Linked DNA regions of Homo sapiens. The protein of the gene in region 2 interacts with the protein of the main gene of each other region in a pairwise test. Each region holds a gene or a part of one and is shown on either strand. Other genes may lie near its edges.

Region 1 (3,828 bases), on a different chromosome or scaffold from region 2:
AGCAGCATTTTCTGCTCGGCATTCCCAAGAAAGCATGTCGCCTACTGTATTTCTGCCTCTTCCATCACCTCAGGTTCTTCCTGGCCCATTGCTCATCCCTTCAGATAGCTCCACAGAACTCACTCAGACTGTGTTGGAAGGGGAATCTATTTCTTGTTTTCAAGTTGGAGGAGAAAAGAGACTCTGTTTGCCCCAAGTCTTAAATTCTGTTCTCCGAGAATTTACACTCCAGCAAATAAATACAGTGTGTGATGAACTGTACATATATTGTTCAAGGTGTACTTCAGACCAGCTTCATATCTTAAAGGTACTGGGCATACTTCCATTCAATGCCCCATCCTGTGGGCTGATTACATTAACTGATGCACAAAGATTATGTAATGCTTTATTGCGGCCACGAACTTTTCCTCAAAATGGTAGCGTACTTCCTGCTAAAAGCTCATTGGCCCAGTTAAAGGAAACTGGCAGTGCCTTTGAAGTGGAGCATGAATGCCTAGGCAAATGTCAGGGTTTATTTGCACCCCAGTTTTATGTTCAGCCTGATGCTCCGTGTATTCAATGTCTGGAGTGTTGTGGAATGTTTGCACCCCAGACGTTTGTGATGCATTCTCACAGATCACCTGACAAAAGAACTTGCCACTGGGGCTTTGAATCAGCTAAATGGCATTGCTATCTTCATGTGAACCAAAAATACTTAGGAACACCTGAAGAAAAGAAACTGAAGATAATTTTAGAAGAAATGAAGGAGAAGTTTAGCATGAGAAGTGGAAAGAGAAATCAATCCAAGGCAAGTTTTTTATATCAATTTTTAATAATGGTAATGGTTTACTTTGAAATGAAAATTCTATGTTTAGTGTGTAACTTAACCTGTATGTTGAACATTGCTCATGCAACAACAACAAAATACCGATTGATATATTTGTATTGCAGTTTTTAGGCCATAAAGTGCTTTGCAGTATGTTTCCTCATTTGACTTTCCAAACATCCTGTGAGAGAAGTAAGACTATTATTCCGTTTTACAGATAAAGTGAATGAAGCTCAGAGAGATAAAATGACTTTCCCAAAATTATGTAGCCAGGGAGTGGAGGAGTTAGGGCTTCTTTTTTTTTTTTTTTTGTGCTTTTAGTAGAGGCCAGGTTTCAGCATGTTGGCCAGGCTGGTCTTGAACTCCTGACCGCGTGATCCGCCCACCTTGGCCTCCCAAAGGGCTGGGATTACATCCTTGAGCCCCTGTGTCCAGCCAGGGCTTCTTTTTCTTATCCTCTTTGGCACACATCTTGCTTCTTGACCACTACATCTGTTGTTTTTCTAGGACTCGATAATTTGCGCTTTGGTGTTATCTCCATTTGCAAATGGTACAATGGCCACAATTCCCGTGGGCTCAAAACAGCATTTTTCAGAGATACACCTATGATTTCTGATGTTTCTATGTTTGGATATTCAGGCTTGCTCAATATTTGAAACAAATGGAAAAGACATGTATCTGAAGAATTTGTGATTTGAAAGGAATAACAAAAAAAATGACAGCTAGAGTAAGGAAAAGTTATTTTAAACTAATAAAATATTAATATAAAAACCTGCCGGGCTCAGTGGCTCACACCTGTAATCCCAACACTTTGGGGGGCTGAAGTAGGTGGATCACCTGAGGTCAGGAGTTTGAGACCAGCCTGGCCAACATGGTGAAATCCCATCTCTACTAAAAATACAAAAATTAGACGGATGTGGTGTCGCACACTTGTAATCCCAGCTACTCAGGAGCTGAGGCAGGAGAATCGCTTGAACCCCGGAGGCGGAGGTTGTAGTGAGCCGAGATTGTGCCATTGCGCTCCAGCGTAGGCGTCGAGGGAAACTCCATCAAAAAACAAAACAAAACAAACAAACAACCTATCAACAGGTGGGAGCAATGAATGGCTCACAATCCCAGCACTTTGGGAGGCCCAGGTGGGCAGATCACTTCAGGTCAGGAGTTTGAGACCAGCCTGGCCAACATGGTAAAACCCCATCTCTACTAAAAATACAAAAATTAGCCAGGCATGGTGGTGTGTGTTTGTAGTCCCAGCTACTTGGGAGGCTGAGCCAGGAGAATCGCTTGAACCTGGGAAGCGGAGGTTGCAGTAAGCCGAGATCACGCCACCACAGTCCATCCTGGGCGTCAGAGTAAGACTCCATTTCAAAAAAAAAAAACACAACCACCTATCAGCCAAGGTATCATAATTTTATTTTTCCTGCTGCATTATCTAGTAGGCTAAACTATTATTTTCATTCCAAGGTTTTGAATGCCGAGGTAATGGACAAGATTGGGATTATTAAATATTTAGTTTCTTGATCGGGTTGTTTTATATTTTTTCCTATTTGACTAAAATTAATGTGTAATAACAGTTCCTAACACTAAGTGTTTAAAATGTGGCAAACATTATTCTTGAGCAGTTTTACATATATAATTTTATTTAATTCTTAACAAGAGGTTGGCTGTGTTTCATTTAGGAACTTTGAATTTTTCCACTATTAGTTTTGATTCCTTGAAATATCCTTGCCCATTTCTATTTTACAGAAGAAATGAATAAAGCATATTAAATGACTGACTGAAGGTTTATTCACAGCAAAGTTAGAGCTTGGACTAGTCCTTAAGACTTGGGATCCTGAGCTTTATTCTGGTGCCTTTAAGGTTTTGAGGGAAATTTAGTTAACAGTGTAGTTTAAGACATTGGTTAAGCCTAATGAAGATAATAATTTTAGACTCATTTATGGTAGTTTGCTGCTTGCTGCTTCCAGAAGACCAGCACTTTGAAATTTCTTGCCAGTGGCTGCTAGATAAGTTTATATTCTTCAGGTGTAGTTATTAACTGATTTTTTTTTTTTTGAGACAGAGTTTCGCTCCTGTTGCCCAGGCTAGAGCTCAGTGGCGCGATCTTGGCAGATTGCAGCCTCCGCCTCCTGGGTTCAAGTGATTCTCCTGCCTCAGCCTCCTGAGTCACTGGGATTACAGGCATCAGCCACCACACCCTTTAATTTTTGTTATTTTTAGCAGAGACTGGTTTCGCCATGTTAGCTAGGCTGGTCTCAAACTCCTGACCTCGGGTGATCCACCCGCCTTGGCTTCTCAAAGTGCTGGGATTACAGGTGTGAGCCACTGCTCTCGGCCTATTAACTAATTTTAAATCAGGATTGACTTCAAGCCAGTGCTCAGTGTAGAACTTGCTTACAGTTGGACTTGTCCCGTGCTGAAGTTTGTGCTCAGAGATTATATTTCAAAATGTGGAATGCCCCTTTTGATATTTGTGATATCTTGCCCCCAAGCTAATTAGGTGCTGTACTTTTTTTTTTGTAGAGACAAGTCTTGCTCTGTCGCCGAGGCTGGAGTGCAGTGGCACGATCTCGGCTCACTGCAACCTCTGCCTCCTGGGTTCAAGCAATTCTCCTGCCTCAGTCTTCCGAGTAGCTGGGACTTCAGGCGCCCACCGCCATGCCCAGCTAATTTCTTTTGTATTTTAGTAGAGAGGGGGTTTCACCATGTTGCCCAGGCTGGCCTCGAACTCCTGAGCTCAGGCAATGCGCCTGTCTCTGCCTCCCAAAATGCTAGGATTACAGGCGTGAGCCACCATGCCCAGTGGTGGTCTACTCTTACATGTCTGTTGGAGGCCACATTTGCCAGATATTGTTGCTCCCGTCTTTTTTTTTTTTTTTTTTTTTTTTTTTTTGAGACAGAGTTTCGCTCTTATTGCCCAGGCTGGAGTACAATGGCGCGATCTCAGTTCACTGCAATCTCCACCTCCCAGATTCAAGTGATTCTCCTGTCTCAGCCTCCCAAGTAGCCGGGGTTACAGGTGC
Region 2 (3,828 bases):
TTCCTCATGTCTTTCAGCTTATCCACAGTAAGCTTTTTTTCTTCTAATCTTGTTAGGATGTGTGGTGGTAGGATTGAAAATTGTCTCAAAGGGCTAGCCCAACCCCAAAGCCTCTTGTCAATGACTTTACTAAGATTCAGGAGCCTGTAGGTCATGGTAGGCCAACGTTTCCTCAGAGCAATTTCAAAAAGAGCACGGACAATTCTAGCTGCATTCTAAAAAATTATAGGAGGAGATTGGTGGTTATACCCAATGTGCTTTTAAATTTGTCAATAAATCTATTATTCAAACTCAGTCTGAAAAGAAGTGCAAGTCAAGCTGCATCCTTGAATTGTGGGGCAATATCTTTTCTCATATAATCCTAATTATCTTATTATTTCTACATAAGAATAATCCTATCCTTTATATGTGGATGCTACTTGCTTACTCTCAGAGGGGAAGCCTTATTTCCAAGTTCTTAGAAAGCTCTACCTTCTAAACAGGAATGAAGTAGGAAGAGACAAAAGGCATGCAAAATATTTAGGAGGCTGTTAAGGCATCTGACTATAAGAGACAAGGACGCCTCTTGGTGAATAGTGGAATGATTAAATTTACAAGGCTATTTAGAGGATTAAGGAAGACTGGGATCCTGATAGGGAAAAAAAATAATGAGAGAAGGGTGACAAATGAAATACTGATTAGTGTAGCTACTCATATGAAAGGGCCATACAAATGGCTTCCTATAAACCAAACAATGTGTTAACTTGCTTTACATATATTGCCTCATTTAACTTTTACAAAAATTGCATTTAATTGATATTAATATTATGATTTTATAGATGAATATACTAGGGCTTAAAGAGGTAAAAAATTTGACCAAGGTCACACTGCTAGTTGGTGTCAGAGCATCTACTCAAAGCCAGGACTAAAGGACTCCAAATATAACTGAGATTCTAGACTCAGTGGTCTGAGGATAACTTTATTAATAGACATATAGAAAGTTATAATGAATGTAGTCTTTTTCTTCACATTTCTACAGCTAGCTCCCATTTATTTTGCCTCCACTCCTCTATCATTAACTTTGCAGATTGTTTTATTAAAGATTGTTTTTTAAATGAACTTATACCTTCCAAAATCCAGTAACATCTGTATTTGAAAATAAAGAATGTTCAGTCTGGTTAAAATCCAAACAAGAGATACAAAACTGAAAAGATTTCAAATGGCAGACAAACAATCCAGCCTAAAATTATGAAGTCAAAAATGACAGATGAGTTAAAGGCTTTCATTTCACATTTTATATAAGATATGCGCTGTCTTTTGATAAATTTGACTATTTTGTTTCAGTATTAGAAATTAAAGTACAAAATGGTAGATAGAAGTATGAGGACAGTTCTGATATCCATTAAAAATGACTGAATGGGTCTTTATAAGGCCCAGAGAATAATAAATAAAATTTTGATTACTGTATCTACCAAATAGGTTTTCCTACCTCATTCCCACTTGTTCTTACAAAAAACTATCAGGCTAATTTTCCTGCCTTTGAAAGTATGTCATTTTAATATTTCAGGATCTACAGTTATCCCCTCAATGCTAAAAGAAGTAGGAGAAATTCCATATGACAAGATACAAACAGGACATGTTAATCTAGAATGATATAAATTGGTTCAAAATAATAAGTCTATAACATGTACAGTCTAGAAAAGTTAAGCATAGGCCTTTAAATAAAATCCTAGAATATTTGAGCTATAGGTTTACCTTAGGGGCTGAGGAGAGAAAGTTTAAAAAATATAGAAGAAAATATCATTTTACAGAGTTGAGAGAGTAGTTGTTCAATTACTGATAGCTTAAACTTAAAATGTAATAAAGTATAATTTATCTGATGCATTCAGGGATGCTAAATCCATAATGGCTGTTTAAGAAAAAACAGGGATGCTTTGAGATATCCTTAATCAGAAGTTGACTTCCTGGATACCAATCATGAAGAGAATTAAAGTTTTACATTGTAAGCAATTCTTATGTCAGTCTCTGATAATATCTTCATAATCTTGAAGCAAGCAGAAATGTTGCCAGATTATTCATCCAGAACCCAGTAAAACTTTACCTTTTATTTAAATGATTAACTATTTCAATATAAAATCATTAGAAAATATAAAATGACAATATTACATTACTTTACAGAAAAACAGATAAAACAAAGGAGATTAGAAAATTATTCCTATAGAAGCTATAGGGTTTAAAGAATATATAAATATTTTCACTACATCTATATTAACTTTATATAATTTATGAATTATATAACCTGGTATCTTGGTTACATTGATTAAATTACTACATGCATTCAAAATGTTTACCAATATGTCTTGGTTTGTGTTTGTAAATATTCCATGTTTAAAGGACTCCTGAGTACTCATGGCTATTAATAATGATATATTTAACACAAACATTCTTTTTCTATATTTAGTCTTTCTTTGAACAAAATTACAAATATAACAGCAGAATCATTTCCATATTTAAAATAAAATTAAGCTTTAATTTCTTCTTAATTTATAAAAGGAAGTACTCAATAAAATAAAATTAAAAAGCCTTGACAGGTAAATAATTTTTTTAAAAAAGTATGTCTAGAAGGGAAATCTTTCATTTGAAGGATAAATAGGGTAAAATATAACCTACTTTACTTCACATAAGGGCTTGAATATAAAAACACAAATATTTGAACAGTTTATACCATGGTATTTTTTAAAAGTTATAAATTAAATGAGCTGTAGTTTAGGGAATAATTTTCTTTCTGTCCTCAATGTTTAAGTTTCAACAGTAGAGAGGAGAGATTACTTTTGTAAAAACCAGAGACATCACACTGAACGTATGGTAGGAAATATGTTTACTACGCCTTGTTTAATGATTAAAAATATTATTATTTCTAATATTTGGTAAAAATCTAAAAAAGTTCCACAATCTTTTCTTTATGCTTGCAATATTCTTTAACTTTTCTCTTTATAAGTACTTTATATTCTTTTACTTTATAAGTAAAAGAAATGAAATTCATCATTTAAAGTAGAAAAAAATCAGGTATCATTTTAAAACTTTGTAAGAAACATCAACATCACCAAAAAAAGCCCTATCAGTCACCAAATCTCATCCCCAGTCCTGTTTTATGAGCATAGATTACATAAAATATTTACAAATTAGCAGAAACAGTTCTAAGTAAAATGGTGGTTTGGTAGCATGTCACAAAGCAATGCATTCATAGCACAGCATGAATTAACACCTTGGTCCTCTAAATATATTCAAGGAAGAGAAAACTGGAAGGGAATAAGATACTTACCTGTGCAACATATGCAGAATCTGATATAAGGGAGAAACTGTCCATTTCTCCTCGGCTGATATAAGTTTGAAGTAAGATGTTTATTTTCCCATAACTATTCTCTACACCTCCAGGAGTGGAGAGTTCACAAAAATTGCTTAATAAGGTATCTAACTCCTCTATTTCCTCTTCTCTGACCTAGAAGAATCAATGTATTTATTGGAATTTTGGGGCTGATTTATTTAAATTTTTCACATTGAAATTAAATACATTGCATGTTTTTAAAGAGTTTCCATTTACTATAATGCAGCATTTTTCTTTCATAGAGTTAAATAACAATGATTTTTCCATAGGTAGCTAAAAAACTGCAATATGAAATGATCTTGAGGCTGATACAATTACATTTTATTATTCATCACCAATATTAAATTTGCCATTGACATATAAAAATTTGATATGCCAAAAAATTAAATCTTCTGACCTCACCATCCTTGAATTGATGAGATTTCATATTTTATTTGACCAGAGTAAAACCTCTGCCCAACTGG

The links.
Region 1: the proteins of ASCC3 (region 2) and SKIL interact in a two-hybrid assay, tested with the Homo sapiens proteins (one large-scale study listed by BioGRID and IntAct).

What each region holds. Positions count from the first base shown.
Region 1 is NC_000003.12:170,360,643-170,364,470, forward strand, and holds part of SKIL (ski-like protein), read left to right. Parts: coding exon 1-787; intron 788-3,828. UniProt on the Homo sapiens protein: May have regulatory role in cell division or differentiation in response to extracellular signals.
Region 2 is NC_000006.12:100,647,237-100,651,064, forward strand, and holds part of ASCC3 (activating signal cointegrator 1 complex subunit 3), read right to left. Parts: intron 3,479-3,828; coding exon 3,302-3,478; intron 216-3,301; coding exon 1-215. UniProt on the Homo sapiens protein: ATPase involved both in DNA repair and rescue of stalled ribosomes. 3'-5' DNA helicase involved in repair of alkylated DNA: promotes DNA unwinding to generate single-stranded substrate needed for ALKBH3, enabling ALKBH3 to process alkylated N3-methylcytosine (3mC) within double-stranded regions.